2 linked regions of the Homo sapiens genome follow. The protein of the gene in region 2 purifies or fractionates together with the protein of the main gene of each other region. This does not show direct contact. Each region holds a gene or a part of one and is shown on either strand. Other genes may lie near its edges. The genes, in order: TM9SF4 and F3.

The links.
Region 1: the proteins of F3 (region 2) and TM9SF4 purify together in Homo sapiens (affinity purification with mass spectrometry; 3 studies listed by BioGRID and IntAct, with this or other methods). This does not show direct contact.

Annotation. Positions count from the first base shown.
Region 1 is NC_000020.11:32,112,695-32,119,996, forward strand, and holds part of TM9SF4 (transmembrane 9 superfamily member 4 isoform 1 precursor), read left to right. Parts: intron 1-7,302. UniProt on the Homo sapiens protein: Associates with proteins harboring glycine-rich transmembrane domains and ensures their efficient localization to the cell surface.
Region 2 is NC_000001.11:94,528,612-94,532,000, forward strand, and holds the end of F3 (tissue factor isoform 1 precursor), read right to left. Parts: intron 1,986-3,389; coding exon 1,849-1,985; 3' UTR 562-1,848; downstream 1-561. UniProt on the Homo sapiens protein: Initiates blood coagulation by forming a complex with circulating factor VII or VIIa. The [TF:VIIa] complex activates factors IX or X by specific limited proteolysis.

The sequences.
Region 1 (7,302 bases), on a different chromosome or scaffold from region 2:
AAAAAAAAAAAAAAACAAAAAACAAAACACACCACCACCAACAAAACCCTGCAAGTACGGTGATTTAGTGTTTGTTGTGCCACCTGGGAGTGTTGTACTGAAAACAGTAACTGATTTAAAGAAACTGAGTATGTAACATATGCAGTGACCCACAGAGGCCAGTTTAAAGGGTGCATATGGAGAAACTTCATATCTGGTGCAATAGTGAAAAGGTGTGGAAGCAAATTTATTACAGGGGTATGTGATGAAGGGGCAAAGTGGAGTCACAGGCTTGAGTTTGGTCTGTGTCAGCACTTCATTACACGGAAGTCAGAATAGTCCCCACACCCTCATACACACCCTCATTTCATAACCATTGGGGCGAGGGGGTGCGGTAGACCTACTTTGGAGTGTATGGGTCTCTGAGGTGAGTCATACAGCCAAAGAGGAACTGAACTAGTGGATCCAGTGGCCGTGGGAATAGCTGGGTTGCTGGTTTGTCCTTTGTTTTGAAAGTTAGGGTTGTGGGTGCAAGTGCGGTGGCATGTGAGCTTTTCCCTTTCTCTCTTTCCTTGGTGAATGGCTCTTCTTCCCCAAGGGTTGAGCCGCCAGCTCCCAGAACAATGTCAGTATGGAGGGTGTTTCCTGAACCCGCAGGGCAAGACTTCTCCCTCCATAGAAGATAGCTGGTGTAAACTGAAGTTCTCTTTGATTTTCCTGTCTTCTTCCATCCTTAGATTTAGACTACTCTGTAAAGTTACAGGATACAGTGTTGATCTAGCTAGGTCTGAATTGAGATGCGGGCTCATGTCTCACTCTTTATGGAAAACGGTTCTTGGGAATATTATTTCATTGAAACTTGGGAAATGTCCATTGAGTACATTTCTAGATGTGTCAGGAGTCTAGAAACTTCAGTTTGGAGAATAAAACTCTACTTCCCTCACATCATTGTTCATACTGTTTTGGTTTTTATTATAATCTTCTTTATGGATATAATTCATATGCCATAAAATTCACCCCTTTAAAGTATATAATTTAGTGGGTTTTAGTGTTTTTATAGGTTGTGCATACACTAAATGTGATGGTTATCACCATTGTGTAATTCGGAACATTTCATCACCCCAAAAAGAGAGTCACTCCCTACTCTTCCCTCCCCACAGCCCTAGGCAACTACTAATTTACCTTCTGTCCCTATAGATTTGCCTATTCTGGACATTTTATACAAAGATAATTATATAATATGTGATCTTTTGTGTCTGGCTTCTTAGCATAATGTTTTCAAAGTTTGTTTATGTTGTATCATGTATCAGTAGTGCCGCATCCCTTTTTATGGCTGAATCTTCCCTTGTATGGATGTACCACAGCTTGTTTATCACTCATCAGTTGATGGATATTGGGATTGTTTTCACTTTTTGGTTGTTAGGTATAATGCTGCTGTGAACATTCAGGTGTAAGTTCTTGTGTGAACATACATTCAGTTTCCATGGGTGTATGGAAGTGTATTCCTGCATCAGTTCACACTGTTTTGAGGTTACTTGGGTTTGAGCCACTCCAGAAACAGGAATGGAATAAATGACATCAAGATTCCTTTGTGCTAATGGAGCCAATGCCAGTAGTCCCTCCAGCCCCAGTCAAAGGCACAGAAACTGGTTTTGTTTGTTTGTTATTATTATTTGAGACAGGGTCTCACTCTGTCATCCAGGCTGGAGTGCAGTGGCACGATCATAGTTCACTGCAGCCTCCACCTCCCGGGCTCAGGCGATCATCTTGCCTTAGCCTTCTGAGTAGCTGGGACTACAGGCACGCACCACATCCACCTAATTTTTTAATTATATTTTTCTTAGAGACAGGGTCTTGCTATGTTGCCCAGGCTAGCCTTGAACTCCTGGCCTCAAGCAATCCTCCCGTCTTGACCTCCCAAAGTGCTGGGATTACAGGTGTGAGTCACTGTGCCCAGCAAAAACTGTTTTTAATGGTGAAATAGCGTGCTAATCAGGTTGGATGATAGAGTCCTGGAACAGAAGGCCAGAGGCCTGAACTGTGCCATCAGTCTTGTGTGCAGGAAGTTGCTGTCTCCTCTGGACCCCATGTACAGGAGGACATGAGCTGACTGAAGAAGGAACGCTGGAGCAGGAGCCAGCAGCCTGGGCTTGGTCCCAGCGCTGCCACTGATGCATTGTGTGGCCTGGGGCAAATTACTTTGGCTTCATTAGTCTGTTTTCCACATATGTCATGTGTGAAATTAAGGTTTGTACTTGATGATTTCCAAATTCTGAGTTGAAAATTTTGTAGTTTGGAATACTTTAAGGTGAGTTTTGCTAATATGCCTATAAAATCAGACTTATTTTGTTTTTTCCATGATGATGGTCACTGTGATCTTTCCAAGCTGTTGTGTTGGTTGTATTGTCTGTCTGATCACCCAGGTTTCCCCACCTGGCTCATGTTCTGCAGGAGCTACTGTGTCCTTGGAGCTGAGGTGCTGACATCGGGCCTTGGTTAAATGTGTTTCTCTGAGGGGTCCCTTTAAAGGAATGCCCTTAATCCCCCTCAGGAAGTACAGAGGAGGTTGGGATCACATTAAGTTGCCTCTTAGTTTCTGTTTTACAACTTGGACAAACGTCTCCCTTTGATCTTGGCATTAAAGAAGCACGTCAGAGAATGTTGGAGAAGGCTGAGTTTTGATCTCTGGGCACTGGCAAAAAGGTGGGAAGGACCCAGGATGAGAAGAGCCATCTGGCCACGGATGAATAATAGGAGCCACTACCACCTTCAAGCCTGCTTTGATCCCTGAACCATTTGCTGACACTAGAGTTTCCCAAATGGGGCATGGATGGGGACACCCAGGACTTCTCAGTTCCATCTCATTCCTTTTCATTGCTTCCTTCTCTCCCTTCCTAACATGGTTTCTCACCTATGCCTGATGCTTTAAACCAACAGACCTCCCAGGGTTTGAAATCCTCTTATGCTTGGTCTGAGAATCTGGGCTAGACTCCCAGCTCTGACACTGTGATTACTTTTGTGACTTTGGACTGATTGGTTATGTGATTTTGGGAAAACCGTTTGCGCTTTTAAGCCTCAATTACCTTATATTAAAATTTTTTATTGTGGTAATAACAAAACCTACCACTTTAAGCTTTTTTTTTTTTTTTTTTTTTTTTGAGACAGAGTCTCACTCTGTCGCCCAGGGTGGAGTGCAATGGTGCGATCTCAGCTCAGTGCATTACTGCAACCTCTGTCTCCTGGGTTCGAGCGATTCTCCTGCCTCATCTTCCCAAGTAGCTGGGACTACAGGCATGTGCCACCACGCCTGGCTAATTTTTGTATTTTTAGTAAGGATAGGGTTTCGCCATGTTGGCCAGGCTGGTCTCGAACTCCTGACCTTGGGTGATCCACCTGCCTCAGCCTCCCAAAGTGCTGGTATTACAGGCATGAGCCACCATGCCTGGCCCACTTTAAGCATTTTTAAGTGTGCAGTTCAGTGGCATTAAGTACGTTTACACATATGCAGCTGTTAGCACTATCCGTCTCCAGAACTTTTTCATCATCTCATTTTTGAAACAAGGATGATATTCTCAAGGGATTGTTGTGATGATTAAATGAAATATGAGATGAAAGTGCTAGCACAGAGAGGGCACTCTGTAACTTTACTCCAAGGTTTGAAGTCTTCCCGTGGTGAGCTATCTAAGCCTGCTGCTTGGGCTAGCTGAGAGTTCTTTTATAAATACCCAAGGTGGAGACAGGAGAGCAGTACGTTTCTGCACTTGGTGGTGTCAGGGTTGAAGTCTGGTTGCCTGTTGCTTCGTGAGGGTGGTTATTAGTTTCACCTGGACTTCCGCAGTGCAGCCTGCTGTGCGTTTTTCCCTACCCCCAAATTACAGCTTTGAGTCTTTCATGTGTCTCTGTTCAACAGCTACTCTGTGTCTGTGGGCTCTGAAATAAAGGCTACATTTTCAGTTTCCTGTGGCTAATTTGTTTTTTGTTTGTTTGTTTGTTTGTTTCTTGCTCTGTGAGTTCTTTAGTTCCATGGGCCTGCTTGGTAAGTTGTCTCTAGCTGTCATTAGCCTTCATTCACATGCGGCTGGATTCTTGGTAAGCTTTAACTGACTGGATAATTGACTTCAGTTAACTGTTGGCAAACTGTGCCCAAAGCCTTTTTCTTTTTTTTTTTTTTCCTCCTTTTTCCTTTTTCTTTTTTTTTTTTTTTTTTTTTTTTTTGCTTAATCTGAGGGAGCAGTTACTGACATGGTCTCAAAATGGTGACTGTCGCCAGGCACAGTGGCTTACACCTGTAATCCCAGCACTTTGGGAAATGCCGAGGTCGGAGTGGGTCATTTGAGGTCAGGAGCTCAAGACCAGCCTGGCCAACATGGCGAAACCCTGTCTCTACAAAAATACAAAAAAATTGCCGGGTCTGGTGGCAGGCACCTGTCATCCCAGCCACTCAGGAGGCTGAGGCAGGAGAATCACTTGAACCCAGGAGGCGGAGGTTGCAGTGAGCCAAGATCATATCACTGCACTCTAGCCTGGGCAACAGAGCTAGACTCTGTCTCAAAAAAAAAAAAAAAAAAAAAAAGTGACTGTCTTTTAGAAAGAAAAAGAAGAATCTAGTCTATTGCTAAGGAAAATGCTGCTTTTGCAGTAGGAAAGGCATGGAACAGGAACCAAAAAGGCCGTTCAGATTGGCCAGATGTATTGCTGCTAGTTGATGCTATTTATGGGAAAGGAGATTGCAAGGCAGAGGGCTCCAGAAAAAGTTAACTTCTGGTTACAGAGAAATGCAAGTGAATGAAATAATTTTTCGTTCTCAGGGAAACTTCCTGTTTTCTTTGGAAGATGTTAATTGTTCACACCTTTCAAACTGGGTGGGGTGAATTTGGAGTGGCTGGGGGTACTTTTGAGTCCTAGCAGCCCTTCATTAGACAGCTGTTTGGGGGAGATATTTCTGAGTGCCCAACCCACCCCCGCCCCCCCAAGAATAAAACAGATGGGGAGGGAAAGACCTTGATTCTTGGTTCTCTTGAGCTTTATAACATTCCAGGTCACCTGTATCTTTGCCAGTGATGGCGTGTTAGATTACAGCACAAAAGGCTTCTAGATTGCCATCACCTTGTTCCTTGATATGCTGCCTTTGAGGTCTCTTTTGCTACTTGGAAACCAAGTAGCAAAAGCAAAATGACGTTGAATGGGCTGGTTCACATCTCTTAGGACTCTTTGCATGGCTCTGAACATGCAGAAGATGATTACTAAATATTTAATTGACTTTTCAGACTGAACCTCTCATGGGAGTTAATGAGGCAATCAATTAAAAATTAAAAGAAAATTTAAAGGAATTTCCTAAGAAGCAGGTACTTTGCTTTTTCCTTACAGAAAAGAACTGCAGGCCAAACATCCTCTATCAGGCTATCAGGAATATAGAAGGTGATGAAGTCATAGAATCATAAAAAGTTGGAACAGTGTCCAGGGGTTTTACCAGAAACCCATGAACTTCTAGTCCTTGATTCTCTGTGTATTGGAATATTTTTTCCGAGATCAGTATCTGTAGCTTTGATAAGTTTCTCAGAGGGATTTGTGACACCCTCCCCAAGATTAAAAATTGCTGATCTGTCTGCTTACCCACATACCTGGTGCCAGAATCCGCTCTGCATAATTCTTACCTTAGCCCACTTTCTGCACATCTTCTGTGGAACTCATCCCAGTATTTTCAGAGGCAACCCATTTCCTTCACTTCTTAAAATATAAATGAATATATGTCTTTAATTTTTTAATTTTTTTAGAGACAGGGTCTCACCCTGTCACCCAGGTTGGAGTGCAGTGGTGGAATCATAGCTCACTCTAACTGCAGCCGTCGGACTCCTGGGCTCAGGTGATCCTCCCACGTAATTATAGGTATTAGCTACTATGCCCAGCCTAAATGTATTTATTTTGTTGTATTTATTTATTTATTTATTTATTTATTTATTTATTTATTTATTTTTATTTTGAGACAAGGTCTCACTCTGTTGCCCAAGCTGGAGTGCAGTGGCGTGATTTCTGCTCACTGCAACCTCCACCTCCCAGGCTCAAGTGATCCTCCCACCTCAGCCTCCAGAGTAGCTGTGACTACAGGCAAGCACCACCATTCCTCATTAATTTTTTGTATTCTTTGTAGAGACGAGGTTTTGCTCAGGCTGGTCTCAAACTCTTGGGCTCAAGCGATCCACCTGCCTCGGCCTTACAAAGTGCTGGGATTATAGTCCTGAGCTACTCTGCCCGTAAATGTATTTATTTTTAATAAGGGTGATCCATGTATGTGGAAAAGAGTATTAAAAAGCTATAAAAGTATCAAAACATTATGTTGTGTGCCTACCATAAATATATTCAATTTTTACTTGTCAGTCTTTAAAAAGCTATAAAATGGATCAGGCGCAGTGGCTCACACCTGTAATCCCAGCATTTTGGGAGACTGTGTTGCTCATAAAGGAATACCTGAGGCTGAGTAATTTATAAAGAAAAGAGGTTTATTTGGCCAGATTTGGTGGCTCATGCTTGTAATGTCAGCACTTTGGGAAGCTGAGGCAGGTGGATCGCTTGAGCCCAGGAGTTCAAGACCATCCTGGGCAACATGATGAAACCCAGTCTCTATTAAAAATACAAAAATTAGGGCTGGGCACCGTGGCTCATGCCTGTAATCCCAGCACTTTGGGAGGCCGAGGCAAGCAGATTCTAGTGGGTGTGTGGTGGTACCTCACTGTGGTTTTGGTTTGCGTTTTCCTATTGACAAATGATATTAAATATATTTTATGCTTATTAGTCATTCATATATCTTCTTTGGTGAATTTCTGTACAAATCTCTTGTCCATTTTTAAATCGGATTGTCATTTTCTTATTAAGTGTTCTTTGTATATTCTGGATATAAGTTCCTTATCAGGTATGTGATTTGCAAAGAATTTTCCACTAGTCTTTGGCCCATCTTTTCATTTTCTTAGTGGTATCTTTGGAAGTGTAAAAGTTTTTAAATTTTTATGAAATTTAATTTATTATAATTTTTTTAATGGATTCTGGTTTTGGTGTTGTATCTAAGACATTTTTGCCTAACCCAAGATCACAATGATTTCTTATTTTTTCCGTATAGAGGTTTTTGAGTTTTAGCTTTTTTGTTTAGTTCTGTGATCCATTTTGACTTAATTTTTGTGTGTATGTTCTGAGGTTCCATGTGCATATGGCTACCCAGTGGTCCAAGCACTATGTTTTGAAAAGACTTATGTTTCTCTATTGAATTTGCCTTGTCAGCTTTGTTGAAAATCAATTTAGTATAAATGTAAAGATTTATTTATAGACTTTTAA
Region 2 (3,389 bases):
CTGACTGAGTCCACTGTGCAGTCACCCTCAAGAGCTGTAAACCATGAGCTAGGCCCAGTCCCTGCCCTCCAAGAGCTCTCAATCTAGCTTGCTTTTAATGGACTCTAGAGATCTCATTCCACTTATATCTCTCCCTATCCTATATTGTCCTTTTACCTAATTTTGTTTCAATACAATCATCCCAAGAATGTTTCTTTTTTTCTCATCTCCAATTAGTCAAACTACTGCCAATGGGAAGAAATCTCTCCAAGTCTGCAGTAGAGAGCATTATCTTTTCTCTTCCCTGTAAGACGACATCCCTGCCCCGTCATGTGCCTTGCAGTGACTCCAGTAGACAAAGTATTGTCAGGCTTGGTCACTTGCTTGGGACAGTAGCATGTGAACAGAAGTGACAATGGGCACCTACAGAGCAGAAGTGTAGGAGATGGGCTTAAAGCTTGAAGCTGTGGTTGCCGGTTTCTACCAGTTTTTTGTTTTTCCCTCTGCCCTGATCTAATTAGGGGCTTCTCCATTGGTTTGCATCCTAGAATGAGAAAACATTGAGAAGAAGTGCAGTCAGCCTACAGTCACCAAAATGTATTATAAGCGAAAAAGATACGTTGTTGTAAGCCACTGACAATTTTACAGTCATTTACTGTAGTAGAGCTAATACAAACACCAAATTGTACATAAATAATAAATGGAAGATAGAATAAGTACAACAGTAACAATTCCCAGTCACCTTTATTTAAAGTATATTAAATAAATTATCTCAATATATACAAATAGAACAATATTACCTACATAAATAGAAAATCCCCATATAGAAAACCTTTTTAAAAAATTATATATACAATGTCAACCATAGAAGCTTTAAGTACCTTAAATCATAAACTCTGTAGTTTGTATAGTAGTCTTATAAAAATATAGTTAGCTCTCAAATGTTTAATGCCACTTAAGTCAGTTAAAGTGCAGATTGTAAAGCATATTAGGAAGGTGCCCAGAATACCAATGTCTCCTGCACTTAACACATTAATACAAAGTTTGCCAATTGTTTTGAATTTCCAAATGTATTCCTGAAAAAAAAAAGAACCTAAACACTATATTATAGACATATGTTAGAAAAGTCCTAGAAATGCACCCAATTTCCTTCCATTTTACTTTCCTACATGGATTGAAGTCAGCCCCTCAAAAGCTTTTCGGCTGGGCATGGTGGTTCACGCCCATAATACTAGCACTTTGGGAGGCCAAGGTGGGTGGATCACCTGAGGTCAGGAATTCAAGACCAGCCTGGCCAAGATGGTGAAACCCCATCTCTACTAAAAAATACAAAAATTAGCTTGGCGTGGTAGTGCGCACCTGTAATCCCAGCTACTCGGGAGGCTGAGGCAGACAATTGCTTGAACCCGAGAGACGGAGGGTGCAGTGAGCCGAGATCGTGCTACTGCACTCCAGCCTGGGCAACAGAGCAAGACTCCGTCTCAAAAAAAAAAAAAAAAAAAAAAAAGCTTTTCAAAAGTCCACCCAGGATTTTTTAAGACATTTTCCCATTTGTTTTTGCTTGGACGACCTGGTTACTCCTTGAGTGCGGAATATATAATCTAAAGCATGTTATGTGCAAAAGGTGCCATGGTGTTAAAAATTAAAACTTGGAATTGGTTGTAGTACCATTCGTTACATTTCAAAGTGACTAATGCTGATGTCAAAACCAGAATGCTAATGGTAATAACAGGTCATATCAAGAGTTTTTTGAACTCCAGGGTCTTCATGCTCCGAAATACTCATTTGCGTTTCCATGTATTCTATCCTCTTAAAAGTTCTCGGTCACAGTGCAATATAGCATTTGCAGTAGCTCCAACAGTGCTTCCTTTATGAAACATTCAGTGGGGAGTTCTCCTTCCAGCTCTGCCCCACTCCTGCCTTTCTACACTTGTGTAGAGATATAGCCAGGATGATGACAAGGATGATGACCACAAATACCACAGCTCCAATGATGTAGAATATTTCTGAAAAATAAAGGGCATCTAGTCAACTTGGAGAGCTCAAATCCCATTTATCAGTGGACAAAATTGACGGCATAACCCCAAATTACACCATCCTATTTTTGTGCAATTTGACTTTCTTTCACTCTTTCCACCACACTTACATTAGGAAAGAATTTGTCAAAACCTGAACGTTTCAGAGTAATTGACAATGGCTAAACACATTTAATGGGCATTTAATAAACTGAATAATGCACAGTCCAGAAAAGATATGTAGTTGGAGGTAAGAACAATGGCTGGAAAGAAGTGCCTAAAAACGATGCTGAGATTGATGGCAATGATTATAACGGAAGGTGAACCCTAAGTGCAAAGTGGGAGATCCAAAGTGCTACCAGGATTTGGGTGAAGAAGAGATAGTAACTAGTTGGTGCAGTAGCAAGGCCTTCTGGTGGAAGTGGCGTTTGAAATGCCTCTCCAAGATAGAGAACGGCCAGGGAAGCAGAGAAGTGTGTGTGCACAAAAGGAGAGGCAGTGGAATTAGAGCTAGGCTTTAGGACAATGACTGAAGGCTGTGGGTAGGATGGCTCAGAGGGGTGCAGGACCAGAGGTAAAGAGAAACCTCTCCTGTCAGTGGCAATAAACAGGAGAGAACAGTTTATTTAAAGTGTTTTAAAATGTTCAAATATCATCTTCACATGGAGCTAAGCCATCATTTCTTTTTTCGTTGTTTCTTTTTTTTTTTTTTTTGAGATGGAATCTCGCTCTGTCACCCAGGCTGGAGTACAGTGGTCCAATCTCAGCTCACTTCAGCCTCCGCCTCCCAGGTTCAAGCAATTCTCCTGCCTCAACCTCCTGAGTAGCTGGGACTACAGACACGTGCAACCACACCCAGCTACTTTTTGTATTTTGAGTAGAGATGGGCTTTTACCATGTTGGCCAGGCTGGTCCCAAACTCCTGACCTCAAGTGATTTGCCTGTCTGGGCCTCCCAAAGTGCAGGGACTACAGGCGTGAGCCACCACACCCAGCGTAAGCCATCGTTTATATCCCCTGACTCTTTTCTTCACTGGAAGTACTCAGAATACTTTCCCTGTAAGGCATGGATCGAGACACACAGGCTTGCAGCTTCCTGCAAGAGTCTGAAGGCCCACAGCACTTCCGGTTAGGGACTGTTCCTCGCACAATGGGCCTGAGCTCCCAACATATGCACATGCATGTACACACACGTGTCCGCCATATACACACATGCATGCATGTGGGTATATTTGATATACTCAATCCCTTCCCTTGATGGGTTAGACTCTACAGCCTCTGTGGCAACAGCCCACAGTGGGTACTCACGAATGTCTACTGTGTCCTGCTGCAGCTGGTCCAGAAGCCACCCCCAGAATTAGAATTTAAGCATGAAAAAATGCCCAGGGAAATCTGT